3 separate regions of the Homo sapiens genome follow, and all the other regions are linked to region 2. The links come from fine-mapping of genetic effects on gene expression. A gene starts in region 2. Each other region holds a variant in brackets. All regions are shown on one strand. Distances are from middle to middle. Region 1 has its middle 7.2 kb from the start of SDC4. Region 2 holds the start of PIGT (phosphatidylinositol glycan anchor biosynthesis class T). Region 3 overlaps RBPJL (recombination signal binding protein for immunoglobulin kappa J region like).

Region 1 (10,473 bases), 62 kb after region 2:
CAATCTGTCACCCATGCTGGTTTGCAGTGGCGCAATCATGGCTCACTGCACCCTCAAACTCCCAGGCCCAAGCCTCGGCCTCCCGAATAGCTGAGACCACAGGCATGTGCCACCACACCTGGCTTTTTTTGAAACGGAGTCTTGCTCTGTCGCTCAGGCTGGGGTGCAGTGGCATGATCTTGGCTCACTGCAACCTCCGCCTCCCGGGTTCGAGCGATTCTCATGCCTCAGCCTCCTGAGTAGCTGGGATTACAGGTGTGTGCCACCATGCCCAGCTAATTTTTGTATTTTTAGTAGAGATGGGATTTCACCATTGTGGCCAGGCTGGTCTGGACTCCTGACCTCAAGTGATCTGCCCGCCTCAGCCTCCCAAAGTGCTGGGATTATAGGCATGAGTCACCATGCCTGGCCCGCACTTGGCTTTTTTGATTTTTCATTTAATTTTATTTTTTTGTAGAGACAGGGTATCCCTATGTTGTCCAGGCTGGTCCTGAACCCTGGGCTCAAGCAATCCTCCCACCTTGGCCTCCCAAAGTGTTAGGATTACAGGCATAAGCCGCTGTGTCCAGCCAAGATGCCATTTTAGAATAAAAGAACAGGAAAGAAGGGAGGAAGGGAGGGAGGGAGAGGGAAATAAAGGAAGGGAGATAGTAAAATAGGTGGTGGAGTAGCAGGAAGTGGAAAAGGGGCAGTGAATCTCTCTGCTCAGTTAGCCCTGGGGTGAGGGATTAGGGAGAAATGGGAGGAAAGGCTTAGAAAAGGGCTGCAGAGGTTGACAATACCCAGGGCAGCTGTCTTCCTTGCAGATGCTGGAATGCGTGGCTCTTCCTGGGCTCTGCTCCCTTCACGTCACAGCTGGGCCCACTCCACCCCATCTCCTCCCAATAGGAAAGGCCCTGCCTACCCATTCTGCTGAACTAGAAAACACAGGTAGCTTTTGATATTAGGGCTGGCTGGAATGTCTGATGTCATCCCTGGAGTCCGGAGCTCACCTCTGGGAAAACCCCACTGGGCGTGCAAGCTAACCTCCTGCCCTTTCCTTTCCCCTTTGGGAGTTCAGTTCTTGGATTCCCGCCTTGCCAAGCTTCGGAAATGTACATCATCCTCCGTCTTAATTTGGATCCAAGAAGGAAACCAAGAGCTGGGGAAAATCATGGCAACCCCTTTGTTTAGCTTCATTGGCCCATTTTCAAATTTGACCACAAGCAGTCTGCTTCAGACCACAGAGTCTGAACTAGAGCCCCACTGGCTTGCTATGTGACCTTGGGCGAGTCCCCTGGTGGGTCCCAGTATCCCAAACTATCAAATGAAAGAGGGACATTGGACTCCGACTTGCAGATGCTGTCATGGCCCTGTGCCATCTGAATCACCTGAGGAACATACTGGATATTCAAATTTCCAGTCCTTGTTTGCAAACCTAAGTCCAGTTCAAGTCTCCCAAAGCAGAGTGTGGAAATCTGTGTATTTAGAGAGCTCCCCAAGTGATTCAGAGGTGCACCCACATTTGATAACTACAGCACAAGATGATCTGTAGTTGACCCTAAACCGGCTCCTTCATCCAACAGAAAACTGCTCTGTGACCTTGGCGAGTCACATTCCGGCTTCAGGGTTTTCTTCCATCTGTAATATGAGGGGATTGGATTTGAATAGCTAGCTGGTCTACGAGGGTTCTTCCTACGCTGCCAAGTCTGTGGTTCCAAACTTATGAATGAAATGTTAAACTTCAGGTCAGAGGCAGAGTGACGAAAAGCCACAAGCTGGGACAAACTGTCCTTTGGGTGGAGGGGAGGGGAGTGCCTCTGGTCACTTGGTCTCTTTCGTCACTTTCACACTGGGGCCCCACTGCATGCATGTAAGGACAATCGCTAAGGTCACCTTCTGGATCCACCCCCATAAATCCCTTGGGAAATGTTCTCCCATAGGCCCATAGGCTTGAGAGCCCTGCTTAGATTCGAATCCTGGCTCTCTGGCTGTCTTGCTGTCCTGCTGGGTGACCTTGGGAAAGTTACTTCATGTCTCTGAGTCTCAGTTGGTTTCCTCTTCTATAAAGTGGAGTTCAGAATAGTACCCATGTTATGGGCTGTCCTGAGGGTCAAATGTGTGCTTAGTCCACTGCCTGATATGCAGTGGGCACTATGTTAACCTCAGCAATGTTAATATGATTGTTATTATTTCTTCCTCTGGAATGTGGGAACGGAAATGCCTGATCTCAGATTTATGGCAAGGATCTAACAATGTATCAGACAAGTCAAGCCCGGTGGCTGGCCCATAGTAAGAGCACATTAAATGTGATACCTTCTCTTCCTCCTCTCACCCCTACTGTCGTGTTCTCTAGATCCCTCCCTCTCTCCCTTCCTCCCCCTCTCCCTTCCTCCCCCGCTAGGCTGCCCTACTGCCCTGCTCACATGTTTCCTTTCAGGGAATATTTGATGAAGACACTTCAGTAGAAACACGTGTCTCAGGGACACGTTATGCAACTCTGTGCTCACAGGTTTTTGGAAACCCCACGTGGGAGGCTTGGAGTTGGCTGCCTGTCCTCTACATCGGTGACCATCCTGGGCTCTGGCCAGTGAGTTCCTCTCTTAGAAGGAAAACTGGAGAGAGAGCTCATTAGCTGCCTGGTTTCTCCTCCAGACCGAAAACCCCTTTGTTACCCAGGTTGCTTTAAGTGCTGTTTGTGTCTGTGTTTGGGGAGGAATATTTGCTGAGCATCTACTGTATGACAGGCACTTATATAATTTAATCCTTATTTAATTTCTAAAACAAGCCTGTGAGTTGAGAACTATTAATAGCCCCACTGAACACATGCAGATCCTGAGGCTCAGAGAAGGGACATTTACCCAGAGCCATGCTGCCAGTGAGTGGTAGAGCTGAACTCCAACCCAGGCCAGTTTGACTCCACACACTATTCCTTCTCAGTGTGTAACAAAAAGCGCACTGAAGGCCAGGCAAGGTGGTTCATGCCTGTAATTCCAACACTTTGGGAGGCTGAGGTGGGTGGATCCACCTGCAATCAGGAGTTGGCGGCCAGCCTGGCCAACATGGAGAAACCCTGTCTGTACAAAAAATACAAAAATTAGCCAGGAGTGGTGGTGCATGCCTGTAATCCCAGCTACTTGGGAGGCTGAGGCAGGAGAATTGCTTGAACCTGCGAGGCAGAGGTTGCAGTGAGCTGAGATTGTACCACTGCACTCCAGCCTGGGTGACAGAGTGAGACTCTGTCTCAAAAAAAAAAAAAGGCACTGGACATTACAGTGACATACAGCTTTCATCTACCTGACCTCATCTTATTGTTGCAACAGCCCCAGGGATGTAGGTATAAACATTGTCCACATGTTACAGGTAAGGAAATTGAGGCTTAGAGAAGGAAGTGACTCACACTCAGTACACATTGAGGTGTGGCATGTCTTGTCAGCTGGAATAATCAAAAGTTAAGAAACATCTGGGGTGTCTGTCTTTCCACTCTAACTTTCCACCCCAACCTCCCTGTTCTTTCCTTCACACCAGAGGGAGTCAGGAAACTGGTTTTCTGTGTTCTGTGTCTAATGATCAGGGGTTTTCTGCAAACCCTCTATCTATGCAGGGTGGATGATGCCAGGCATGACAGTGGGTGGAAGGACCTCTGAGTACAGCCATCCCTCAGCATCCATGGGTGGTTGGTTCCAGGACTCCTGGCAGATATGAAAACCCAGAGAAGCTCAAATCCTTTATATAAAATGGTATAGTATTTGCATATAGTCTATGCAATCTTCCCACATTCTTTAAGTCATCTCTAAACATCTAATACAATGTAAATAGTTGTGAAACTATATTTTAATTTTTATTTGTATTATTTTCATTGTTGTACTGTTGTTTTATTTTATTTTATTTTTAAGACGGAGTTTCACTCTTGTTGCTCAGTCTAGAGTGTAACGGTGTGATCTTGGCTCACTGCAACCTCCGCCTCCTGGGTTCAAGTGATTCTCCTACCTCAGCCTCCTGACTAGCTAGGATTTACAGGCATGTGCCACCATGCCCGGCTAATTTTGTATTTTTAGTAGAGACGGGGTTTCACCATGTTGGTCAGGCTGGTTTCGAACTCCTGACCTCAGGTGATCTGCCCACCTCAGCCTCCTAAAGTGTTGGGATTACAGGTGTAAGCCACTGTGCCCGGCCTTTGTTGTTATTTTAGAGACAGGTCCTTGCTCTGTCACCCAGGCTGGAGTGCAGTGGCGCTATCATATCTCACTGCAGGCTCACACTCCGGGGCTGAAGCAATCTTCCCACCTCAACCTCCTGAGTAGCTGGGACTACAGGTGCATACCATCAGGCCTGGCTATTTTTATTTTATTTTATGTAGAAAAGGAATCTCACTATGTTGCCCAGGCTGGTCTCAAACTTCTGGGCTCACGTGATCCTCATGCCATGGCCTCCCAGAGGGCTGGGGTTACAGGCATGAGACACTGTGCCCAGCCTCACACCTTCAAGTTTTCTTACCTTGATTCTTGACCCCATCCATCATGTACTAAACTTTCTGTCCCTACCTAGAAATTATTCTTTATTCTGACCTTAAAGGACTCAGGGCCTTGTTTTAAGATGAAAAGTTGTTTTTTTACACTTCCTTTTTATCATTATTTATTCATTCAATCATCTACTTGATAAATATTCATTGAGCATTTATTATGTGCCAGAAACTGATCCAGGTGGTATGGATATAAATGAATAAAGTGAATAAAGAGAAAATACTCTAATCTCATAGAGGAGAGAGATGATAAACAAGTCAATCAACAATATAAAATCTAGCGTCAAGGAATGTCAGTATACTCAGAACACCAACAGTGTGGGATTCTGTTATAACATCAGAAAATGGATGAATACAATATTTATCTCTGCTCCTTTTAGGACAGGACACTTGGGAATCAGGAACAGGAATCAGGGCTGTAAGTTCAGTGAGACAGCATGGTGATGCAGACAGAATCAAAGAAACTTGAGTTTGAATCTTGTATCAGTCAGCTTTTGCTACTTAACAAACACCCCACAAATCTCAGGGGCAACAGAAATGGATTTCTCAATTGTAGATTTGCAGGTGGGTTAGGGCAGCTTTGTTACAGTTACGGTTTTGTTGTCATTTCTCCTTGCTCCGCCTGTTTTCTCATCTGTAAAATAGAGATAAAACTACTTACTTCACAGCATCCAAGTGAAGATGATGCTCAACACTCCCTTCTGATTAAACATACACTCTGCTCAGGGTATGTGAGAAGCTAAATGTTCAACCTCTAGGCCAAATAGTAATCCAAAAAGTGGTCTGGGCTGCAGGCGCTTACTTAAGGAATAAGGAAGGCCATTGGCCAAGCCAATGAGTCTTGTGGTCCCCTCCCAAAATTTAGACTAGAAGAGAGAACCAGTAAGTCAGTAAAAGAGAGAGAGGCACACATCCAGGAAAAAGAAGAGACACTCTTAAAGAAAGAATAAGCAGGCTTAAAGAGCAAGAGATGAGTCAGCCAGTCTGTGGCATCATCTCAGTCCTTGATGTTTCCCTTTCAGTTTTAACCTTTAGCCCTCCCGGTCCTCCTAATAACTCCTAAGCCTTTTCTTAAGGAGTCCTGAGTGAGGCATGTTTCCTCGCAATTGCAAGAACTGAGCTAAGACAGAGAAGATGCATATAAAGTTGCCAGCCCACAGCTTGGCATATAGTAGATCCTCAGTCTACTGTATAGCTGGCAGCTATTGTCCGCTAATCAGGGAGCTGCTTAAGAACACGGACAGGTCTTGTTCACCAGGATTTATCAAAAAGCTTCTCACATACAAGATATTCATCAGATGTTTTTTGGATAAATGACCAAGTGAGTGAATTGCTACATCTGAGCCTCTAAGGGAAAATGTCCAAATGGCATTCATCCAGTTATCCATGCGACAAGTATTTACTGAATGTAAACCTCTGCCAGACCTTGGACAAGGTGCAAGGGATGCAGTTGTGAACACAACAATGTTCTTGCCCTCATGAAACTTACATGTGGCAGAGAAAACAGAAAATAAACAAGTAAAAGAATAAGTG[C/T]GTGATGGCAGGTAAGGGAAATGTTACGACAAAAAAATAAAGCAAAGCAAGTGGAAAGAGTAATTGGAGGTGTTATTTTTAGAATTCTTCAAAATGCCTGTGGTGGATGCTGATTCACCGTGTGGGCCTCGGTTTGCCTATCTTATAATGCGGGTACTGTTGGACTGAATGATTTGAGAGGACCCTTCTGGGCCTAGTGTTCTTAGTTTCTGTGGTTATGCAAGGCAGTGGCTGGACATTCCACAGCCCCTGGAAACTCTAAGCTGTCATTATCTGTAGCTGGAGAGAGATTTACATAAACTGAGGAAGACCAGAAAGGGTTGGCACCATCCTGGGCGAGAGCCCTATGGCCCAATCCTTTTTCTGTTCTGAAAATAGTAATGTGTTACCTGTTATTAACCATGTGTGAGGAGCTGCTGGGGAGGGGAGTAAGTCAAGACTCTTATGGGGAGGCCCCCTTGATTATAAAAATAGATAACACTTTGATGCTCCGTATTGTGCTAAGCACTGTAGTCTTAACATTTTTATGATGTTAAGAACTATAATGACCCTCAAATTACATGGGGGGACACATGAGAAAACTGAGGCACAGAGAGAAAAAGTGTCTTGCTCCATACCACCAAGATTGCAATCTAGGTCTCTTTAACTTTGAAGACTGTGCTCTTCACCTAAAACTAACATGAGTGAGAAAGGGATGCCTGCCCAAAGAGTGGGACAGATAGAGTCCTAGAAACCTCAAGGCAGGAAGAAATGAGAATTAAAAGAAGAGGATGGAGGATTCCAGGAGAAGGTAGCATTTAAGGTGTCTCTGGATGTACCAGGTGTGCACCTAGCCTTGGTTAACTCCGGCCTAGGAAGTCTGAGAAAAGGGGGAGGGACACCACCTCTGCTATAGGCTGGGTCTGAGCTCATTTTTTAGCTCCATGGGAGGGGGCTGCCTGTTGATGTCCTAGATCATTTCCTTTTGCTTGAAAGGAAGCTAGGGGGAGGATGTAAAGTGTTTGACCAATGCCATCTCTCAGACTCACTCAATCTCAGGTTAGAATATACAGAAAGAGTGCTGGACCCAACATAGGTGAGTATATGTTATGTGTTCACCACTTCACCTTATTCCATTCTCCTAATTAGTTCAAGAGGGAATTATCTCCATTGTAGGGAGGAGCAAAGGGACTCACAAACTTTCCTCCAGTTGGCAAGTCCTGGAAACAGGATTTTAATGAAGAACTTCTGGCTGTAAACACTGTGGGTTTTGTTTGGTTGTTTGGGTTTTTGTACCTCAGCCCCATGCAGGAAATTAGGAACTCCTATTCAGTATTACAAACCTTTGACTACTGCATTTTGTTTTTTGGAGGCCAAAGAAGAACCCAATAAAACTTCTCAAAGAATCTCAGGTTTTGGACAAATTATTTTTAACTCTTTGGGGGTCAGGATCACCCAAAAGGAGGATCCCCCAAACATCCTCTTTTTGTGGATATAAAGAAAGAATCTGAAGTTTCTTGCCCCAAAATAATGTATGCAGAGACACATAACCTAGAGGAGTACTGACCATGCATGTGTCCTCTGCCCCCAGTCATGGAGCCCAGGTTAAAGACCCATACATCCACAAATAATTATATTCAAACATGTTGCATCCCTTTAGAGATTCTCAGAACTTGGGGAAGGGGAAATTATTTCCTTAATTCCAGGAGGTTAAGATAGTTTTATAGAAGAACTTCCATTAACTCTCTAAACGAGCTGTTTTCAGTTTTTGTTTTTGTTTTTTTGCTAGTGTACTCTGTAAATGATTATTTTAAGACTAGGTACTCCTTGACATAATTTTTAGTTGATAGCTTAACATTTTTCATCAAAAGTTTAAATAGTTGCAAAGGTTGTAATTTCTGGCATATTGTAAATTTATACACGTAAAAGTAAAACAATTACATCACTCTTTTAAATGTATCCAGTTAAATTAAATGCCCTAGCAATTCGATACCTACAATCATCCATTTAAAAAATACATGAACAAGCTCTTTTCTAAGAGTCAGACATTTTGCATCATTTCTTTTTCTATTTGAAGTCAAATTTCTACTCCATGTTCCACCACAAAATTTTATCATAATGTGTTTTTTTTTAATGCGTCAGAGGCTTACTGATGACTCTTTTAAAAAGTCCTGCAATAATTTAAACAGCTTCATTAAGGTACAACTGGCATAAAATAAGCTATACATATTTAAAGTATACAATTGACATAAATATATGCTTGCTGTGTTAGGCTGTTTGCGTTACTATAAATATATGAGATTGGGTAATTTATAAAGAAAAGAGGTTTAATTGGCTTACAGTTCTGCAGGCTATACAAGCATGGCTCCAGCATTTGCTTCTGGCGAGGGGCTCAGGAAACTTCCAATCATGGCGGAAGGTAATGGGGTAGCAGACATCTCACATGGCATCATCAGGACCAAGAGACAGGGAAGGTGGAGTTCCCAGACTCTTAAACAACCAGATCCAGCGTGAACTGAGAGTGAGAATTCATTTATCACCAAGTGGATAATGCTAAACTATTCATGAGGGATCTGCCCCAGGATCCAGTCACCTCCAGGCCCCACCTCCAACATTAGGAATCACATTTCAACATGAGATTTGGAGGGGACAAACATCCAAATCACATCACTCTCTAAACCAGTCCTACAAACTTTGATAAATAATTATTAAGTAGAAAAAGTAAAGTTGTTTTAGAAATACCTGTCTTAATTAGGTGGCTGTGGCAATTTTTCTCTCCAATTAGCTCACTAAAACCTCCATGAGATTGGGTATAGTCGCTCATGCCTGTAATACCAGCACTTTGGAAGGCCGAGGCACGCGGGTCACTTGAAGTCAGGAGTTTGAGACAAGCCTGGCCAATGTGGCGAAACCCCATCTCTACTAAAAATACTAAAATTAGCTAGGCATGGTGATGTGCACCTGTAATTCCAGCTACTTGGGAGGCTGAGGCACAAGAATCACTTGAACTCAGGAGGCTAAGGTTGCAGTGAGCAGAGGTTGTGCCACTGCACTCCAGCCTGGGTGATGGAGTGAGACTTTGTCAAAAACAAACAAACAAACAAACACCTCAACGAATATTGCTAGAATGAAACAGGTTTTAGCAATAATTTTATTCCTATTTTTCATTTTTTATAGCTGTCAAACCATGGTGTGGTAAAGCCATCTTGTAGTGGTTCATGAAAGTCAATTTTTAGAAATTTTGTGGCTGGGTGCCATGTAATCCCAGCACTTTGGGAAGCTAAGTTGAGAGGACTGCTTGAGCCCAGGCCTTCAAACCCAGCCTGGGCAACATAGTAAGACTGTGTCTCTACCAAAATAATAATAATAATAATAATAATAACAATAACAATAATAATAATAATTAGCTGTGCGTGGTGGCGTATGTCTAGTCCCAACTACTCAGGAGGCTGAGGTGGGAGGATCTCGTGAGCCTGGGAGGTTGAGGCTGCAATCAGCCATAATTTTGCCACTGCACTCCAGCCTGGGCTACAGAGAGAGATCCTGTTTTTTTTTTGTTGCTTTTTTTTTTATGTCATTAGCCAGTTGTTAAACATAACTATTACTAAAAATTAATTTATATGAACATACAATTATATTAAAAAAAAAGGAGGCCGGGTACAGTTGCTCACACCTGTAATCCCAGCACTTTGAGAGGCTGAGGCGGGTAGATCACGAGGTCAGGATATCGAGACCATCCTGGCCAACATGGTGAAACCCTGTCTCTACTGAAAATACAAAAATTAGCCGGGCATGGTGGTGTGTGCCTGTAGTCCCAGCTACTCTGGAGGCTGAGGAGAATCGCTTGAACTTGGGAGGCGGAGGTTGCAGTGAGCCGAGATTGCGTCACCGCACTCCAGCCTGGGTGACAAATTGAGACTCCGTCTCAAAAAAACAAAAACAAAAACAAAACCATAAAGGAAATAAATACTCAAAACTCATCACTTACTAATTATCTCACTACACTTTACTGTTATCCATGCTTTTGAGATTATTTGCACCTATTGTATCTGTGTGGTAGAAATATATCTTCCCAGCTCCATGTTCAGTGACATCTCATTGGTAGCTTGAAATCAGCCATGCTGGTAGTATTTACACTACAGAAATTGGCAAATTAGCACTCGCCACTTCCCCTAGCCAATTGTCAAACATTTACTGGCACACCACTGGCTGTAAGTGCTGAGAAACTTATAAAAGTTGGTAGGAACAGAAGAACTCTTGTTACAACAGTGTGACAATAGATAACTAAAATCACAGTTACCTATTCTATATTTAATGATCTATCTACTGACAACTAGATTAGGCCCCCCTGCAATTTTGTGGAAAGCAAAGATTGCAAACCATTTAACTTGCAAAAGGATTTCTTATTCTGGCATGAGATTTCTTCATTTTCTCAGTTTTGTTCCAAATCCTAGGGAAGC
Region 2 (10,298 bases):
CAAAGGAGAAGATTTAAAAGAATAATAACAGAAAAACCTATAGAATATGCAGTTAGGATGTCTGAAATAGAGATTTTGAAGGTGGTACAAATAATGGTGCTGAAAATAAGTGAAACTATTCACCGTATGTTTGAAAATATAGGAATCAACTAAAGTACTGAAAGGTTTTTAAGTTTGGCCGTTTGGGATATGGTACAACCTCTTCCTCAGAGGTCTTTTACTTTACTACTAGTCTCCCCCTACACCAAAGAAAGGCAAGTGCTTTAGTGCTATGCCTGGCACCTAATAGGAAGCACTAATATTATCTTCTCCTTAGAAAAATAATAGAAAATAAAAATAAATTTTAATAAAAATAGAAATAAAAAAATTTAATTAACTGTACCTCTTTACCCCTCCCAAGGAAGCAAAACACCATCTACTCCAGCTCTGCTATCTTCCTAGCTTCAAAAGCCTAACGTTGCCAAACCCTTTCCCTACCTTAAAGAGTCTATGAATCATCACAAAACCCAATGCTCCAGAAAGGAGGCAAAAGTAAGTGAAAAAGGAAGCTACTGTCCTTGTACAGTCCTATTAAGAATCACCAGTATTATGTGTTTTAATTATTGCTGTTTTATAAATTACTTCTGAACCTGGCACAGTGAGGCTCCCGTTCCAGTTTTGAGAAACTATTCCTTACTCTTTATGCCTGTGTAGCTTTTCAGAGGTACTTCAGGAACTACCCTGGGAAATGAGAGTTTGGGGGACCTGGAGAGGACATGAGAGGGCGGGCTGGGGGCCTGGTTCAGGACTCAGGTCCTCACTTGGTTTGTTCTCCTTGCCCTTGGAGGTGATGGTGAGGGTGTGCACATACAGCCGCAGATACCAGGGTACGGTGTCCAGCAGCAGCACCGGGAAGGCCCGGTATGGGTGGGTGTTGTACAGCAGTGTGCTCAGCTCCCCCTTCTGCAGCCCATAGCCACTCACGTACCGCTGGGCATGCAGGAAGGGCACTGGGGGGGCCTCTGTGTAAAGAAATATCAACAGTTAACAGCTGCCAAAGGTAAGAATCACTCCCCACCCCACCTGCCCAGGCCATGTTCAGAGTCCCAAGCCAGTGAGTAGATGGGGAACAGCCCTGCCACTGAAACTGGGCAATCTGGGTTCTGGAATCATCCCTGTCTTCCCCAGCCAACAAGCGATGATGACAATAGGTTGCTAGTATTGAAGTGCTTACGTGACGAACACCGTGCCCCCTTCGAACCCAATCCAGGTCCTCTCAGGATATTCTGCTCTTTCCCTTGGTAAGGGAACTGAACACAACTGTAATTAATTAACTGACACCTGCCCTAGCTAGTAGACTTATATTTCTTGAGTGCAGTGTCCTCTGTCTTATTCAACACTCTATGCCTGGCACTTAGTATGAATTCAAAAGTATTTGGTTGATTAAGCAAATGCATGAACTAACTCCATTTTTCACATCATCTCATCCAATTTGCTAAGTATACTCTATTTTTCAGATGTGGATGCTGAAGCTTGGGGAGTTTAGGAACCTACCCAAAATCGTAGAGCTTGGAATAGCTACAGTCAGCAGCATATGACTCTGGAAATCTGGTCTAAATACAACCCAATCATCTAACGGCAAAGACGTGGGATTGTGAGTCTTTTCTCTGTAGCCGTTGCAACCCAGCAGTCCAACCAACCACCCACTCACCATTCTCTGGGGGTCTCTTCCACTTGAGCTGGATGTTGAGGTTTCGAGAGTTGTTGATCATGGCGGTGTCAAGCAAGTCATAGATGGCATAGGTCTTCCGAGTGCCTAGGATGACGTCCTGATATGTAGTGGTCGGGGGTGGGTGCACCTCTAATGTCTCGTTGTCCTGGGGACACAAAGGCAGGGCTAAGAAGCAAGCAGAGAGGGTAGGCTGGTCCTGGGGACCAGCGGTGTGTTTGTGTGTGTGGCTGGAGACCTTGTTACCTGGTTGTAGGTGGTGATGTCCACATAGACTCGGCTCTCTGAAGCCAGGGGGCAGGGCTCCGTGAGGGTTCGGGAGAACATCCGGAAGAGGGACCAGTCTGAGAAACAGAGCGCAGGGCTGAGCAGGGGCCAGGCCTAGGCCTAGTCCACATAGATAAGGCAGGGCTGGCATGGGTGGGTACAGATGAGTTGCCAAGGTAACTTACCTTTCTTTCCCTGCCCCGTGATGAAGGCATCAAATACAACTGACAGGGTCTGCCTCAGCTCCCAGGAGATGCTAGTACAGCGTGCATTCTATCACAAGGGCCAGATGGCAGCAGTGAGGGGGTATCACTCTCACCACACAGCCCCCAAAAAGACTCCTACTCAGACTCAATCCCTCATCTATGTATCTTCACATCCATCGATTTGCTACCACCCACTCCTGAGCACTTGACCTCGTGCCAGACCCCGTGCTGACAGCTGTATGTGCATCAGTTTGATAAACTATCACAACAACCCTAGGAGTGGATTCTACTATCAATGTCATGTGGCAGGGTGGGAAACCAAGCTCAGGGGAATGAAATGATTCACCCAAGGTTACGCCAGCTGGCAAGTGACTGAGCTAGCAATTGCACCCGCATAGCTATTGTTCTGAACCACTATTTTCCATGACAAATATTTATTCAGTGCTTGCTAGGCAACCACTGTTTTCTTGGTGCTTGGCCAATGCCCTGAATAACCGTCATCACATCTACCACTCAGTACTCACTCAGCCTGAGCCAGACACTGACCACATGCTTTACATGTACCTTCTCTGAGCCCCTGGATGGCAGCTTCCTCTACTCCCCATGACTTACTCTGCAAACAGGGCGGATATGCACTGCCTGGGAGTGGTAGCTGGTGTGGAACAAGCGATCTGCCTTCAGCAGCACAGAGAGGCCTGCCTGGAGGAGATGGAAAGAGATAAGAGAAGCCCTGTATGGAGCACTTGGCATGGGGCGCAGGTTCTCTATACACCCCCCGCCCCCGGCTGCCAGGCTCTGCGGCCTCACCTTGGAACTACAGGGCAAGAGCTTCTTCCAGGGGGTGAGGTTTTCGGTGCAGACCACCTCCCGCGGCAGCACAGCATAGCGCAGAAAGTAGTGGTCAGTGTCTGAGGGAGACAGAGGTCTGTCTGGGGTGGGCCTTGGGCTCTGACCCCTCGGGATCCACATTCCAGAGATGGGAATGACCCTCCTGCTCCCCACACCACCTCTAGCACCACAGTCTGGACAGTCCCAACTGGGAGTAGGACTCCCTTCTCTCCTTGGGAAAAGGCATGCAGAGATGGCACAGTATTGGGGGCCTGCACACACAGGGGACTTAGGATCTAGCCCAGGCTGAGGAAGCAGGAAACTGAGGGAAAAGGAGGCAAAGGTTTGGGCAGGAGGTAAGAGGAAGAAGGAAAGGGCTGTAGGGGTTATCTCACCATTGGCCAGACCCAGGGGTTTGAAGGAGGCAGTGGGAGTGACTGTGTTGGTGGAGTCGATGAAGTTGAGAGAGGCGCAGAAGATCCCTGAGAGGACATTACTGAGCTCCTTCCAAGATTTATCCACACTGGATAGAGACACAAATCCACTCACTGTCCTGGGGCTACCTCTGCTCCCTCTTTCAAAGTCCACAGCTGGCTGCTAAACCTATGATAGGAGGAGGCTGTATTCTTAACTATTAGACGGGCCAGTTGATGGAGCTGGAACATTGCTGCCCCCAGCCAGCCCACTTGCTGGGTCTCATCCTACTCAGCCCCTTCTTCCTCACTCTCCTCTGGACATCTCTGCATCCCCATGGGTCTCTGCTCAGGTGATTCTTCCTTCCTTGCAAGCCTTTGCTAACTTCTTTCTGCCTACCTTCATGATCCGGCTCCAGTGCTTACCTCCCCTCCACGAAGCCTTTCCTGCCCTCCTTAAGCACAGTCTCCTCTGTGCAGTCACGGTTCTGACCATCCAAGCATCTTACTAGGTCCCTCCTGGGAGATGGCTAGGTGGCAGCAGCATCGTGTCCTGACCACCTTTTCTCCCTAACTAGGCTGTAAGCAACTTGAGGACAAGGACCAGTCTGGGTCATCTATGTACTTCCCCTGACACCATGGAAAGCGCCTCATGTATCAGAGCTGAAATGAGCTCACTGATCTTCCTTGAATGTGCTGGGCTGGGCAAAACAATGCATACTACCCTGTGTATACTCTGGGAATAAAGGTAAGTCCTGATTCTACTATCATGGTGAGAAGTCTTATATCCAAAAAAGCTCACTGAACATGGGAAAAACAACTGTTCTAGGATTTCATAAAAACATCAAATTAAATTAATGTTCTTTTCTTGGAGAAATATCAAAAGAGATTTGCTCTCAGTAATAGAGAAAGCATAAAACTTAATAAGCACTAGAAAGAATTCTAAGCATTTGCTCCACATTTCAGGCAATTACGGGCTGAGGGAAGACAGTGACAGCAGAGTAGACAGGAAAGGGTAGGGGAGCCAGAGTTGAGGCAAGAGAGAAAGTCTTGGCAAGCTGGGGAGTTACTGCTTATTCCTTATTCCTTAGTGTTGTCCAGGAGCTTTTGATAATTCTATGTTCAGAGCTTTTCAACTGCTCCAATCCTTAAGCCTCAAATAAAAATGGCAAACTTGAAGCCGGAAAGCTCTACTCAAACCATAAACATGCTTCATTTGGTATGCACAACATTGACCCGCACAGCACTCAAAAAATTTTTAAATTACTTGCTGATATTTGAATTTGCCAATTTTCACATTAAATTCCAGATTTCTGGTATCTCTTGAAAAATGAGGCCAGGTGTGGTGGCTCTTGCCTGTAATCCCAACACTTTGGGAGGCTGAGGCAGGAGGATCGCTTGAACCCAGGAGTTCGAGACCAGCCTGGGCAATATAGTGAGACCTTGTTTCTACAAAAAATTTTTAGAAACATTTGACTCTGACCACATTAGGCCTCTATTCCCACATGGCAACAATCCATAGAAGCTGAGTGGCAGAGCTGTCCTCGTTAGAATGTCACACAAACTCTCTAGCCTGCCACAATTCCTGCTGCTCCTTTTTATTGCCCTAAAACTTGTTATATCATACTTGCACTATTGATTTCTTATAGTGGGATTAAGAGGAAAATGAGATATATTTCTCATTCCTGTGTTTGTCAATTTTAAAAATACCTTTATTCATTCCTTACCTGTGTGGCCCATGTAGACCTGTTTGCAACCACTGCACAGAAAGGTTCTATTCTAAACAGGATAGCCACAGCAGCCACTGGGAAATAGCGGTTTGTAGTAGGCACAGTAACTAGACCTGCCCCCTCCCAAACAAAAGCAGTTCCTCTAACACTGTGATGTAGCATCCTGTTGGCCAGTTGTAACCCACAGATATGTTATGGTTGGCTTTCGTGGTATTTATTATCATTTAAAAAATATTAATGAATGCCTTTTAAAAGGTTATCCAGTTGCCAGTTTTCTACTGCCTTACCTCCAAATAAGCATTAATTGTTTGCTATTTGCCTCTCCAGGGATATGCATGTGCTACCTCAGGTCTGAAAGTTTTAGGATTGGGAAGTTTATTCATCTGTGGTAACATTTCTTACTTCCAATGCCAGCTCTACCCCCATGGAATCGCTGCCTACTGGAAGTGCTGTCCCCAAGAGCAGTGGCAGGATGACAACACTCTCCCAGCCACATTCCCTCCATGGCCTGCAACAGGGCCCAAGGTGTGCACTCACTCAGTGACAGTGTCTTGGAACCAGACCCACAGCTCTGCACCTGATGGGGCCTGCAGGAAGGGTGGCCCCCAGTATCGGGTCCTCCAAAAGCCTTGTGTGAATGACAGGTGCAGCTCCCGTAGAGAATACTTGGAGATCAGCTGCCCCAGGGCTTTGGGAAAGAGCCTGTAATGGGACACTGGGGAAACGGGAGCAGGTGAGTGACGATCCCCACCTCGTCGGGGTCCACACCCAGGATCCCGAACTCTACCCAGGAATTAGGCCCCGCCCCCAAAGTTTGCCTTCATCCCACGGCCGGCCAGCCAGCAGGCACTACGGAAATCTTTCCCTGGTCAGATCTCGCGCCCTCACCTCCTTCCCGCTGAAGCTCCGAATCCCAGCGCGTGCGGAACTGGAATGTGGCGGCTACGTCCCCGGAAGGCAGCGGGGTGATGACAAGTTCCTCCCGCAGGCTGTCGCGTGGGGGTTCTGCAAGGCACCAGCCGCCGGGCCCCAGGAGCAACAGGACGAGCAGAGCAAGCGGCATAGCCGCCGCCATGCCTGCGGCTACTTCCGCCTACCCAGCGGCGCTCGGCCCCATGAAAAGCCGGTATCCAATAAGAAAGGCGTGTGAGAAGTGACTTCCGCTGTCGTCCCGGAAACCGGGATGCGGTTATCAGAGCGACCGCCTGCGCAGGTCGCGAAGATTCCCTCAGAGCTGGTGGGTCTAAGGGGGTACTGGGAGGACACGAGAGGGAGTAGGCAGGGCGAGTAACCAGCTTGAGGCCGCACCTAGTTCATGGCGTATTCCACCCACCAGGAAATGCTTAATAATATGAAGCTCCTTCACTGCCATTTTACCCATTTGATAGTTGAGGAAACATTGACTGAAAAAGATCAATTACTTTTGGGAAAACCATTGTGGTTTTAATTTGCATTTCCCAAAGTAAGAGGAACCTCCTGCCCCTCTTAGCTTCTAGTGTCTCCATTTGCTGCAAAACCCCCAAATAAGTGGTTCTTTTATTACGAAAATGTTCAAACAAAATTGAAAGAATGAGCACCTGTTACAATAAACCTATTTTCCACCACCTAGATTCTACTATTTACATTATACTATACTTGTACTTTACCACATATTTGTCTATACATCCATCATTCCATCTTGTGTTTTGGTGCACTTCAAAGTAAATTGCAGACATTAGTACACTTTCCTTTAAGTAGTTAAGCATGCATATAATTAACTAGAGTTCAGTATTCGATTGCATTTTGATGTAAAATTCACATACAGTGAAATGCACAAATCCAAAGTACACATTCACTGAGTTTTGACAAATGCACACACCTATGTAACCCGAACTCCTATCATGATACAGAACATTCCTAAAACCCCAGAAAATTAGCAATACCCTTTCCTAGTCAATCCCTGCTCCTCTATCACCTTCCAGAGGCAGTTAGTACCCTGATTTTTTCCCACAATAGATTAATCTGTTCCAGAACTAAATATAAATGAAATCATATAGTATGTATACTGTGTAAGGCTTTTTTTTTTCTCATGGGAAGAATGTTTTTGAGAATCATCCATGTTCTTGCATGTATCCACAATTCTTTTTATTACTGCGTAGTATTATTAATTTATCCATTCAACTCTTGATGGGCACTTTTAAAGTTTTTGGTTATTATTAACAAGGCTGCTGTCTGTGCAAGCTCCTTTGTAGACGTATATTTCTCATATCCTTTGGCCAGGTATTTAAGAGTGGAATTGCTGGGTCAGAGAGCAGGTGTATGTTTAATTTTATAAGAAACTGTCAGACCTTTCTCCAAAATGTATCATTTTATGTTTCCATAAACTATGAGTCTCCATTGTACCACATCCTGGTCAGCATTTGAAGTTTCTAATTTTTTGTACTTTTTAGTTTTGACCACTTGGGTATGTATGTAGTGTTTGCTCATTGTGGTTTTAATTTGCATTTCCCTGGTAACTAAAAATGTTAAGCATCTGTTCATGTGCTTATTTGCCATTTATTTTTTAATTTAATTTTTATTTTTTTGTGAAAGGTCTGTTAAAGTCTTCTGCACCCTCACCCCTTTGTTTACTGGCTTGTCTTTTTATTGACTTTTTCGGAGTTCCAAAGTTAAAGTCATGCTTTAGTTTTTCCACCTGCCCTATGGGAAACACATTCATGAAGGATTTCATGAACAGTCTCTTGGTGACACTCATGACCACACTTCTAGAAAGAGCCAATTTGGTGTCAGGCAGGTCTGCCAAGATATGCGCCAACCAACCAGACATTTCCAGAAAGGAAATGTCAGAAAGATGTCTTTATCTCATTATGCCTTCATTCTGCCTGCATTCAGTGTTCCTGCCCCATTAGACACGAAATATTAGGAAGGCCATGGGCTTAGATGTCAGAAAGACAGGAGTCCAAATCCCTATGCCAGCCTTTAATCCATATGAGCATGATCAACCCAAGTGTCACTTTTCTTCATTTGTATAATGAAGAAACCTACTTTCAAGGTTGTTGTTAAGATGAGAAATTATGTACATGTAGGATATGGAATGTAGCAAGTGCTTAATAGTAACACTCAACCCTGTCACCTAGGCACTAATATGTAAATGTAGATAATAGTGCCTAAGTGATAGGGTTGCTTGAGTGTTATTATTAAGAAGTACATAAACTAAGATAATAAAGATTACAATGAGTGATGGAGCTAGGACTATAGTCTACACTATCAAACCTCAAAATAATACTTTTTTAAAGGTAGCTGCCATCATTATGACTATTTTGTACTTCTCTGTTTTCCTTTTGAAATTGCCCATCTCCATCATTCAGGACCCAGCCACCTCTAGTGAAGACTTACCTTCTCCTCCTCTAGTGGTCTACAGGCTTCATGTACTTCTGCTACATCTCTCATCACATTGTTTCCATTACCTGTGTCTGTGTCTGCTCCTGGAAGAGCTCATGGTCACCTTAGTATTTCTGTTGCCTAAGCAAGGTGACTGTCACATAGTAGGTGCTCAGTAATGTGTGAATGAATGAACAAACAAGATGACATCATAGCACAGTTCTGTATTTTCCCTACTCTGCCATGCTGTTCAGTGTCAAGTTCTGTGCACTCCTGGGGTTGCTACAGTGTAAGCCTTCTAAGGAAACTTTTTCTGAGCTGTGGTGCCTCCTTTCCGAAGTGTGTCAGGATGTCCACCCTATGACAAGTCCGTGCAAATATCAGAAGCCACGCTGTAGCTTGGAGACTGAAAGCTGGGCTCCTTGACTTAGAGTTGGCTCCAGATCTTCCTCCCACCTCCAAAGGCACTGTGTGGCCTCAAAAACCAGACAGCTAGGCTCTGGGCTGCCATAAACCACGGTTTAACTTTAATGCAACACTATAATCAAATGGTGAATCTGAAGATTATCATTTTTTTAAAAAGTGACCATATTGAATATGGTGTTTTATAGTCTACTCTTTCTTTCAAGAGTTATCATAAATGTCTTTCCACTAAAAATATGTGGTGGGTAGATGATACAATCTTGGTACTATTTTGATGATTTTTTAAGCTGTATGATGAGAACCTGGGATATTTTTCTTTCTATATTTGTTGTACGTTTGAAACCCCCATAAGTTTTTTTAAAAAAACAAAGAAACAAAAAACAGTCAGCTGGAGATGATGGTTCTGAAGGCCAGCCAAGCCCCTGTGGTTCGGCAGGAGAAAAGGTTATTGTCCCAACTAGGAAGTAGTCCTGGGGTCTCAGCTGACACTAGACTTTTCCAGGCAGGGCTGGGGCTCATAGCAGCCAAACTGAAGGCTCCCCATAGGCTCAGAAACAATTCTACTTCTCTAGAGGGCTGTAAATCCCTCTCTCAAGGCAGGCTCCCCACAATCTTCGCATCATGTGCCTGGGCTACTAAGAGATTTATTGACATGTTGACGGCAACCAAGCCAGTCTAGCTTCTCATCGTTCACCATGGAAGGAAGGGGGGTGATCCTGGGAGCTGAGAAGCCCTGCACAGCAAAGCTATTGGGATCATGGGCCGCAGCCCAAGAGATGGCTCAGCCACAGTCAGACAGGAGGTAGATAGAACCTTGCTACTCTAAAGGAAGGAAGGAGAGAAGCCACAAGAGGACAGAGATTATGTCTTCTATGTGCAGCAAGGTCATAAGCAACCCAGAAAAACCCCAAAAGTTAATAGAGGACTGGGCCCTGGCCCAGCTCAGTGGATGATCTCAACTTGGACCTAGAGGCTTTTGCACAGAAGGTATTCACTCCACAAGCTTCCTAGAGACAGGGAATGGCTGGTGGACACTCCTACTTCCCTGGAGTTCCCACAGGTTTCTCACTAGTGTTAGGAAAAACACTTAGGAACAGATACTTACACTGGCCTCCTGCAGGGGTGAGAGCAGGATGGGACAATAGGAAGACTGCAGCCTTGTCACTCAACCTTGGGTGGCACAAAAAGCTTTAGGATTTTGGCTGAAGGTCACTGATCCCATGGGTGATGTTCAATGTATGAAGGGAGGTGGACTGATTTTTTTTTTTTTTTTTTGAATGTGAGAAATGAGTTGATGTTCCTTAAGACTGGGTCCTATAACCTCTTCTTTCATTCAGCATTCTCTCCCTGGGCATTCTCTCCT
Region 3 (10,473 bases), 100 kb after region 2:
TAAATAAAATGAGAACTTAATGCTCGGGTGGAGAACAGTGCCACCTGCCGGTTTCACTTTGCATTAGCAATATCTAAATATCTGCCAATGCCATATAATGCAATTCACTGTTTATTGAGCACCAACTCAACATGCGAGGCATTGTGATGCACCCTTTAGGACATGCAGAGATAAGAGCTCCTTTCCCCATGAAGATGGCAGCCTAGAGGAGACAATGGGCATGTAGGTAAAACCTTTGATCCAAAGCAGGCAGTCGATATGGTCCCATTGAGGGTCTGTGGGAATACAAGAAAAAAGCCTGGGGCCAGGGCTGGCTTCGTGGTTGTGCAGCCTGTGCTTGGAAGGCCCCTGCACTTGGTTTCATCATTTCCTGTGGCTGTCTTGAAGTTCTTTTTTTTTTTTTAATCCCGTGTTCAGTCGAATTGAAATTCTTGAATAATTTTTGAACAACGGGCCATTTTGCACTGGGGCCCACAAATTATATAGCTAGTTCTACCTAGAGTAGTTTGGGAAATTTTGGAAGAGGCGACACAGGACCTGGCAGGGCAGTAGTGGAGGGAGAGGAAAACAGGAGGCATATGGTAGTGTGGAAGTGGGGGTGGGATCCTTAGGCCTGGGTGACTGGGTGGTGTGGGGGAAGGAGCTAGAGGTGGTGCTGCAAGGCAGGTGGAGAGGGAAAGGAGTTTGATGTTAGATGGCTTCAGACTCAGTGCAAGGAAGACCTCCAAGGACAGTTTCAGCAGCTGGAACTCAGAAGCTAGGCCAGGGCTGGAGCTTTGGTCACAGACTTCCAGATGGATACCTTGGGGACACCAAAGGTTATAGGATCCCCTGAGATGGGTGAGGACTAAGACAGAGCTGTATGGCTGGGTCTGGGCTTTTGGTCCAACCTAGATTATTGGCTTCTGGGACTCCTGCCTTGAGGAGTGGTGGAGGAAGACTTTGGGGGCAGGGCTGGACGATGAGCGCTTGAGCCCCAATTCCCCATGTGGTGCGCTATGACACTCTTCTCAGCCTCCTCCCTCCTGGCTGCCTGCTTCAACACCACCATGGACGGTGAGTCAGGCGCTCATTTCAGGGACATTTCCCATTCAACTCATTTGCTGCCTTCCTCAGCCAAGATTCACCTTCAGGGGCCACAGGCTTCTTCCTCACCCCTCACAGTGGGTTGCAGCCTGCTGATGGCAGATGGCAGAACTTAGTCAAGACTTTGGGAAGGCTAAAGAACATACCCCATTTCCTCTCCTCTGCGTATTGTTCGTTTCTTTTTTCTCATGGGACTTTCCATACCCTGGGGGAGGAGTTTTACAAGAAATGAGCTCTTCCTTAGGAGGGCAAGCTCTTCTCCAGAGGGTTAGAACCTAGAACCCACATTTCAGACCAGTTTTCCCATCAGGCACCACCAGAGGCTGGTGCAGGTAGCTGGCACCCATGATACTTATCTGTGTCCTTGATTCCAATAGCCCAAGCCAGTGTTCTGCCTGGTTTTTTTTTCCTTCCCTATAAAGCACAGACTGGGTAGAGTGGTACCTAGGGTGGGTAGGCTGGTGGGGAATAGATTGTGATTCTGTCCATCAGCCCCATGCAGAGAGGCCCCCCTCTCAACTACATTACTGCCCAGTCAATCCCAGGAGTTCTGCCCAGGGCTATCCTGGGAAAGCTTTGTTTTGAAAGGGTCCCGTGGTCACCTCTGGGCCTGGGGTGCACCCTTGCTTGGGATGGAGAGATAGCTAGTAGGGTAACAACCCCAGGGCAGGGACAGGGACTCAGGATGCCAGCTGCCTCTGCACCCTGTTCCTCCTCTAGAAAACGTCCAAAAGGTAGGCTCTCTGCTCCATCAGACTTGTGGTTCTTTTCTTTCTGTGCAGGTCCCCTCTTTTGTGTGTTGGTGCGAGGGTTGGGGGAGGCACACTTGGGGAGGTGGCTCATACAGACCAAACTCTGCCTTGGATAGGATTGATTTTAATGCAGCTGTAGAATCCCTGATCCTCAGGACTGCGTCCTGCTGGGCCTGTGGGAGAAGTGACTGGGGGGGACAGTTAAGGCGGCAAGACCTCATCACTGTCCAGGCACCTGCCCAGCCACCAAATCTGTGGACCAGGGAGCAAACACAGGCAAAGGTACTATGCCTGGCTGCAGTCAGAGAGAGTCTCGGGAGGAGCAGGTCTTTGTGCTCTAGGGCAGGACACAGTGCTCTAGGTGGGAACTGGTGCCCCAGGTGGGACCGAATTCCCCAGGTGAGACTTAGAGAGACCCGGTGCTCCAGGTGGATCTAATATTCCAGGAAGGACCTGGTGCTCCAGGGTCCTGATGCCCCAAGAGCTTGCCCCCTATGCCTGGATGTGTGAAGCTGTGTGTTTTCTCTTCAAGAGGGGACACAGATGCCTGGAGGGTAAATGTCCCAAACTTGGCTCCTCGGGGCATGTAAAATTGTGTGTGAGAGGCAGGGAGAGCTGAAGAGAGAAAAGGACAGAAGGATAGGGACACGCACATAGGTCTGTAGACTAAGTACTGAGGGGGAAGGGAGAGAGAGAGAGGTTTAGAGACAGAGTGAGAAGAAATGAAGACAGGGAGAGCCATACACGACGGACACAAAGACAGCACCACTCAGGTCTTGTCTTCCTGTATGTGTAAGGACAAGGGAGGGAGTGAGCCGGGTAAGACCCACCAGGCCCGGTTTCTAGGGTGAGCCTTCAGCTGCCCTTCTGCAGCAAAGGGGCAAGGAAGCAGGGCCTAGAACCCAGAAACACGTCCCCGCGCCTGGCGCGGGCGCAGCCCTCCAGGGTGGGCAGCCGGGGCTACCGGGCGCGCCTAAGTCTGGATGAAGAGGTGGAAGTTGGTGCGCGTGAACTCCTGATGGATGCTCTCCAGGAGCGCGTCGGCGTCGGTGGCGGGCTCGGGGACGCCGGGGTGACCCGGCCGCACGCTGTATTCCGGGGTGTAGGTGAAGGAGAAGGCACTAGGGTAGAAGAGCCCGTCGGCGCGCACCAGGCTCATGGGGATTGTGATGGGAGCGCGCAGCCAGCGCCAGTCGCTGCAGAAGGCCGCCACGTCCGGCACCACGCACACCAGGGACCGCGGGCTCCTGGGGGTGGAGCACCAGGGTGAGGGCTGCGGCGACTCCGACGACGCGTGCACCCCCTTCCCCTGCTCCCCGGGGCCCAAGAGAGGCTGCCTCACCACCCCGTACCTGTACATGGTTTCTGCCTCCACGTCCCCAAACCACACCTTGAGCCCCGCGTGGAAGTTCTCTCCGTGGAGCTCCAGCGTGGCCACGTCGCCCCCGCCGCTCAGCTGGGGGAGGGTGGGACCAGGTGAGGTGAGAGAACCAAGTAGGGCGGGAACCCGCTGCCCCCCACTCACTAGCACCACCACTGCCCAGTGCAGGCAGGGTCCCCCTGCCCAACGCCCCTAGCGCCCGGCTTCACCTCTAGGGTGCTGATGAGAGGCACCGGAGTGACCGGCTCCAGGGTACACGCCAGGCTGGTGCTGAAGGAAAATTCCACCGACTCGGTGCCGATGATGGTCCAGCAAGAGCTGTCGTTAAGCAGAGCCCTGTTCGCCTCCTTGGGGCAGGGAGAGGCCTGGGAGGAGACCCAAGGGGACGAGGCCGAAGCTTCTCATGGTGGCCACCAGTGTAGGGAGCCAGCATGGCGCGTGGGCTTCTGCGTTAGACCGAACTGGATACTAATCCTAGGCTCTGGGGTTCACTTGTCCCCTCAGCTTGGACAGTGCCCTTAAGTTCTCTCACTTAGCGTTAAGAAAGCTTGTTGAGCTAGCTGATTTCTTCTTTCTTCTTTCTTCTTTCTTTTTTCTTTATTTTCCTTCCTTCCTTCCTTTTCTTTTTCTTTCCCTTTCTCTCTCTTTTTTCCTTTCTTTCTTTTTCTTTCTTTCCTTCCTTCCTTTTCTTTCTTTCCCTTTCTCTTTTTCTTTTCTTTCTCTTTCTTTTCTTTCTTTCTTTCTTTTTCTTTCTCTCTCTCTCTTTCTCTCTTCTTCCTTCCTTCCTTCCTTTCTTCCTTTTTTTTTTTTTGAGACTGAATCTCGCTCTGTCGCCCAGGCTGGAGTGCAATGGCCTGATCTTGGCTCATTGCAACCTCCGCCTCCCGGGTTCAAATGATTCTCCTGCCTCAGGCGCCCGGGTAGCTGGGATTACAGGTGCCAGCCACCACGCCCAAATAATTTTTTTGTATTTTTAGTAGAGACAGGGTTTCACCATGTTGGCCAGGCTGGTCTCAAACTCCTGGCCTCGTGATCCTCCTGCCTCAGCCTCCCAAAGTATTGTGACTACAGGCATGAGCCATTGGCCCGGCCTGGGATAGCTGATTTCTAAGGGTCTTTTTTCTTGGGATTCCAGAATTTTTTTTTTTTTAACATTGTGCAATTCTATGCTCTAATAATCTACAATTTTAATATTCTTTGGGAAGGAATATTCTTGGGGAAGGAATAATACTTGCTATTTTCCACATATTATAATTCTATCTCGTAACATTCTATGATAATATTCTTTTGGGAGTACTACTGCTTAACGATAATTATTATTTTCCACATTCTATAATTTTCCACATTCTGTGTCTTTATCTGTGCTTCGAATAGTCTTTGCTCATTAATTCTCTGCTCTCTATTACCTATCATGATTTTTATTTACATCCTACAATTTTATATCCCAATTTATTTACTTACTTTTTTTGAGATGGAGTCTTGCTCTTGTCACCCAGGCTGGAGTGCAATGGTGTGATCCTGGCTCACTGCAACCTCCACCTCTCAGGTTCAAGCAATTCTCCTGCCTCAGCCTCCTGAGTAGCTGAGATTACAGGCGCCCACTGCCATGCCCAGCTAATTTTTGTATTTTTAGTAGAGATGGGATTTCACCATGTTGGCCAGTCTAGTCTCGAACTCCTGACCTCAGGTGTTCTGCCCACCTCAGCCTCGCAAAGTGCTGGGATTACAGGCATGAGCCACCGCACCTGGCTATATCCCAATATTTTATGACTCTAAAATTCTTTGGGAAGGAATATTGCTTCATACTATTACTTATTACTATTTTTCTACATCCTATGATTCTGTCCTGGGAGTCTATGATTTTAATGTTCCATGGGAGGCTGCTCAGGAAGTAGCAACCATGGTGAGGGTGATGATCTTACATTCTGTGGTTCTCTGCATTCTCCCTTTCCAGGACACTTGGTGCTGGTATTCTCTGCTTCTTACCTGAAATTGCACCACCTTCTCTGTGGCAAGGCATAAGTAGGTGCCACCCCCTCCTGGGGGACTGCCTGGAAACTGGAATGCACACTTGTGCAGCTGGGAGATGGGCTCATCCACATCAAGGAGCGCACACTGTTTTGCTACTTTACGGATGATCTGCAATGGAAGGATGGTAAGAACAGTGGTGGCAAGGA[G/T]CCCGGGCGTCCAGAGGCTGCCCTCCTAGCCGGCTGTCTGCTACTCCAATAGCCACACAGGCACTAGCAGATTCCCCCTGCCCTTTGACTTCTGTCTGGTCCTACGCGACACTGGGTGAGAACAGGTGTCTCCATGCCTTGGGGCCTCACTCTCCAGCCCTGCCCGTGTGTGCCACATTCTCTGCATGGATCTGAGGGGACCCCTCCAGGCATGCCCTCCCTTCCTATACCATGGGAGGTAGTGTGATGCCGGTGACCGTGCAGACGAGCTGCACCAGGGAGCCATAGCGAACGTAGCCCTCTCGCGGTGGGAAGTCTCCTTGGGCAGAGTGCCCATCAGCTGGGGGACAAAAAAAGCAAGGGACAAGGTTTTCAGCGGCCCCCAAGCTTCTGCCTTAAACCCTGCCTTGTTGCCTCTGGCTCTTCCTCACATCACACATGGGCCCTGCGGGAAAGCTTGGTACTCAGGGGAGCCAACTGAAGGTTCTAATTCTGGAGAGGCCATTTGAGGCCATCCTCACAAATGTCTGCCCTGGGGGCAGGGGTTGGGGGCAGGCAGCTTAGTTGATATATGGGGAAAGGGCATGGATAAGGGAGTCAGAATAGCTTGGAACAGTCACCAGCTCACTGGGACTGTAGTCAAGTCTTTTTGTGTTTCTGAGCCTTAATCACATGGGGCAGAGTTTACCTTCCTTAAGGAGTTGTGGTGGAGGTTAAATAAGCTAATGCATGTGAAGTGCCCAGCTCCAGGGCCTGCAGATGTCATTACCCAGGTGGAGCGTGAAGGCAGCCCACTGTCGTGCACTGGCCACAAAGGCCCCATCCTCCACAGAGAGGTAGCGTGTGGAGACCGTCTGAGAGCGCAGGCGGTTGAAGAGGGAGACCTTTGAGCCGGAGGATATGCACACTGTGAGGGTGAGGGTCAGGGTTAGGGTGAGGGTGAGGGTCAGGGTTAGGGTGAGGGGATAGGGTTAGGGTTAGGATTGGGGTTAGGGTTAGGGTGAGGGTTAGGGTGAGGGTGAGGGTTAGGATTAGGGTGAGGGTTAGAGTGAGGGTGAGGGTAAGGATTAGGATTAGGGTGAGGGTTAGGGTGAGGGAGGGGGTCAGGGTGAGGGTTAAGGTTAGTTGGTGCTATCAGTGCCCTGTCCTGGCTTGGTTCCTTGGACTTTCCAGACAGTTTCCAATCTTCTGTCCCTGTGCCGGCCTGGCTAATGTGCCCACAGGCCTAGATACACTGGGCATTCCCAGTTCACAGCTGTTTTTCCAGGACCTGCTGCAGTCCTGCTTTGGAACCTTTGCCTGTTCCTTTGCTGTCTGGACATCTTTCAGTTCAACAAACAAAAGTAAAACTTTTTTTTTTTTTTTTTGAGATAGCATCTCACCCTGTCACCCAGGCTGGACTGCCGTGGTGCTATCACAGCTCACTGCAGCCTCGACCTCTTGGGTTCAAGTGATCTTCTGATCTCAGCCTCCCACGTAGCTGGGACAACAAGTGCAGGCCACCATGCCAGGCTAATTTTTCTTTTTCTTTTTTTTTTTTTTTTTTTGGTACAGACAAGATTTCGCCATGTTGCCCTAGCTAGTCTTGAACTTCTGGGATCAACTGATCCGCCCACCTTGGCCTCCCAAATTGTTGGGATTACAGGCATGAGCCACCGTGCCCCACCTATGTCACTTTTAGTCTGTCCCTAGTTCAACTCCTGCCTAGTTCAACTTTTGTCTGCTCTGGGACCCCAACTCCCAACCTGGAATTTGGTATCTGTCCCTTTCCTCTCTGCTTTTCATCCTCCAACTCTTCTCATCCCCAGGCCTGGGCCGCACCCACTCATCCAGACTCCTTCCCCTCTCGGCTCCGACTCCACCTTTTCCACTCTGACCCCTAAGCCCAGCCTACCCCCACCTCCGCGCCCCAGTTTAGCCGTTCTGGGCTTGGTTGCACCTCCCCGCCCGGGCCGGGGGTCAGGCCCCGCCCTGCTCACGATCGGTGTTTTTCAGCGACTGCTTCTTCTGCGAGGGCTTCGAGATGACCTTGATAAGGCGGCTGTGGAAGGTACCCAGCTCCCGGCCCCCGCGCAGCACCAGCCGCAGCACCAGCCGAAAGTGCTTCCTCTTGTCTGCATCTGAGATGTACAGGGTCTTGGCGCAGCCGAATTCCTAGGGGGCTCACAGGTACAGGGCCATCTCATCCCAGCCCTCCCCCGTCGGATGAACCAACCTCTCCCAGATATCGGACGTCCGCCCCGTCGGAGGTGACCAGAAGCTCCACCATCCAGGCTCTCAGGCTCGGCCTTAAGGCAGGACCCCGGCCTCCCGGTCTCCCCACCTATCTCTTGGCTTTCGGAGGGGAGTAAAGGAGCCCTCCTTTCCCAGGAGAGGCAGGGATGGGAGCAGGAATCGGACCCCTTCCCGTGCGCTCTCACCCTGGAGTCCGGCTGCTGCTCGAAATTCAGCTTCTGCGTCTCAGTGGCGCTGCCGGACGCGCTGTCCAGTCCCATGTAACCGCAGACCGTGGGCCCCGTTTCCCCCGCCTGGTGAGCTGGAAAGGGACGCGAACTGGCTCTGCAAGGACTCGGGAGGACGCAGGTGCCAGGCAAGCTTAGCGCTCGCCGCCAGAGGGCGCGGGGAGACTGCGCCTGCGAACCGCCCCGTCTCGGGCCCAATCTCGTGGTCCTCCCTACAGAGCAGGCGGCCGGCAGCCCTTGATTCCGCCCTCACCTTGATCCTGCCCTGGCTTCACCCTCCAGCCAGGCCCCGAGAGGTAGACACAGGGCGGGGGGCAGAAGAACCTGCGGAGATAAGTGAGTGTTGGAGTCGTGCATCCATCTCCACTTGGCTCTCCTGTAAGCACGGCAAGGTAGTAGCATAAACCCAGCAGAACCTTCGTTTCCTCCTCCCGCTCCCCGCAACGCTTTTTCACGACTGTAAACCCCATTCATAGCCAAACCTTATTGTTTTTACACCCCTCATTCAACTCATCAGAAGGTCCTGTCCACTCCACCTTCAAAATATAATATATCCAGAATCCACTGGCTTTTTACCACCTCGCCCTTCATCCCAGCCGCCATTACTTTTTGCCTGGACCACAGCATCAGCCTTCAAACTGGTCTATTTCCAGAAAGTTCTGTTTCTATCTCCTTCCCATTTCGCACAGCAGCCAGAGTGCTCCTTCCTTCCTTCCTTCCTCTCTCTTTCTTTCTTTTTTTCTTTCATTCCTTCCTTCCTGTTTCTTTCTTTTTCTTTTTCTTTTTTTTTTTTTTTGAGGCAGGGTCTTGCTCTGTTGCCCAGGCTGGAATGCAGTAACTTGATCTCGGCTGTCTGGGCTCACTGCAACTTCTGCCTCCCCAACTGATCCTCCCACCTCGGCCTCCTGAGTAGGTGAGACTACAGACACAAGCCACCACACCCATCTAATTTTTGTGTTTTTTGTACAGACATGGTTTTGTCATGTTGCCCATGCAGGTCTGGAACTTCTGGGCTCAAGCAATCTGCCCACCTGGGTCTGCCGAAGTGCTGGGATTACAGGGATGAGCCACCAGGCTGGCCAGAGTGTTTTGTTAAAAACATGAGTCAAATCATGTTAACTCCTTAAAATCCTCCACTGGTTTAAAATTCAAAGTCCTCCTGAGATCTGACCCCTGCTTACCTCTCTGACTTGTTTCCTACAACTCCTCCCTCTGATTTCAGCCACTGTCATTTCTTTTGTACCTCAAACAGGCCTAATTGGTACAGCCTCAAGGTCTTCCCATTTTCTGTTGCCCTTTTTTTTTTTGAGACTGAGTCTTGCTCTGTCGCCAGGCTGGAGTGCAGTGGCATGATCTCGGCTCACTGCAACCTCCGCCTCCCGGGTTCAACCAATTATCCTGCCTCAGCCTCCTGAGCAGCTGGGATTACAGGTGCCCGCCACCATGCCCAGCTAATTTTGTATTTTTTGGTAGAGAGGGGGTTTCACTGTATTGGCCAGGCTGGTCTCGAACTCCTGACCTCAGGTGATCCGCCCGCCTCGGCCTCCCAAAGTGCTGGGATTACAGGTGTGAGCCATCGCGCCCGGCCCTTCTGTTCCTTCTAATTGTAGCACGCTTTCCCCAGATATTCTCCTGTCTGGCTCCATTTCAGCATTCAAGTTTCAGTTCCAATGTTACCTCCCAAAAGGTCTCTCAACCTCCTTGACCTTTCTAGCTAATGTCCCCCCTGCCTTCAGTTTCCGTCAAATGGCCTCGTTCAGTTTTCCTTCTAGTGCTCATCATAATCTGCAAGTATCTTGTTTCCTGACTTGTGGGGAGTTTACTGTCTGTCTCTTCCACACTTGAGTGAGAGTGTGGGCTACAGAGCAGGGGCTGTTTCTGTCTTGTTCAGCTGTATGCCCAGTGCCCAGCAGTACCCACAGAGCCTGGTGCATACATGACAAACACTCAGTAAGTAGTTGTTGAATGAATGAATAAGTGAATCAATGGGAGAATGAGTGAATGAATGGAGACAGGAGATTCACAGGGAATCTCCTGCTGTAGAACTATAGACCAAAGTGGGGGCTAATGGTGGCTGAGGGTCAAGGCCCTGGTCGACCAATAGCTGAGATCTCAGCCCTGAGGCCTGCTCTGCGTCTAAAAGAGGCCCAATGGGTGGATGGAGGAGGTGCATAGGGCTGACAGTTGCAGAGACCTGGGAGGGGCTGCGGAGGCACCTACCGCTTCTCATTTCCGTATGATTTCTGGGCCACCTTGGCATGCAGGATCCGCACAGTCTGTTCACACTGTTGCTGCAGGCACCTGCGCACGCCTCCCCTCAGAATGGTGGTGTGCTCTGGGGATGACCTGGGAGTAGGGCAGGCAGGTCGACCAGCCACAGGAGGGAGAAGGGTCAAGGTGGCACAGGGTCCAAGCACTCAGGTTGAGTAAAATGAAGTGAGCAGGGGGTTAGAGTGAGTGGGAGGGTGGGGCTGCTCTATATCCTGCCCCTGTGGGGTCAGGAAGAGGAAGCATTAGGTAAGGAGGAGACTTGGCTGCAAATTGTAGGCTAAATATTTAGGCTGCAAGGTGCTCAACGAAGCCTGCATGGAACCCATGGGACCACCCAGGTTCCA

The links.
Region 1: its variant is fine-mapped to the expression of PIGT in whole blood (TOPMed, PIP above 0.99).
Region 3: its variant is fine-mapped to the expression of PIGT in whole blood (TOPMed, PIP above 0.99).

What each region holds. Positions count from the first base shown.
Region 1 is chr20:45,350,432-45,360,904 of GRCh38, reverse strand. No RefSeq gene overlaps it. Among named protein-coding and RNA genes, the nearest start is that of SDC4, 7.2 kb to the right of the region's middle. The variant C/T (reference allele first, on the strand shown) is at 6,035.
Region 2 is chr20:45,412,086-45,422,383 of GRCh38, reverse strand. PIGT (phosphatidylinositol glycan anchor biosynthesis class T) reads right to left here and starts at 6,243. Exons shown (of 12, transcript NM_015937.6): 1 at 6,041-6,243; 2 at 5,690-5,867; 3 at 3,405-3,532; 4 at 2,989-3,089; 5 at 2,794-2,880; 6 at 2,161-2,248; 7 at 1,955-2,052; 8 at 1,691-1,856; 9 at 801-1,001. The coding sequence starts at 6,227. LOC107985405 (a long non-coding RNA gene) reads left to right here and starts at 4,001. Exons shown (of 2, transcript XR_001754640.2): 1 at 4,001-4,170; 2 at 5,567-10,298. RefSeq lists an enhancer at 2,715-2,774.
Region 3 is chr20:45,309,298-45,319,770 of GRCh38, reverse strand. It overlaps RBPJL (recombination signal binding protein for immunoglobulin kappa J region like), which reads right to left. Exons shown (of 12, transcript NM_014276.4): 3 at 10,079-10,204; 4 at 8,112-8,182; 5 at 7,817-7,932; 6 at 7,376-7,550; 7 at 6,166-6,303; 8 at 5,627-5,736; 9 at 5,206-5,358; 10 at 3,429-3,584; 11 at 3,191-3,294; 12 at 1,947-3,085. The coding sequence ends at 2,812. Among named protein-coding and RNA genes, the nearest start is that of MATN4, 6.2 kb to the right of the region's middle. RefSeq lists a silencer at 8,099-8,148. The variant G/T (reference allele first, on the strand shown) is at 5,397.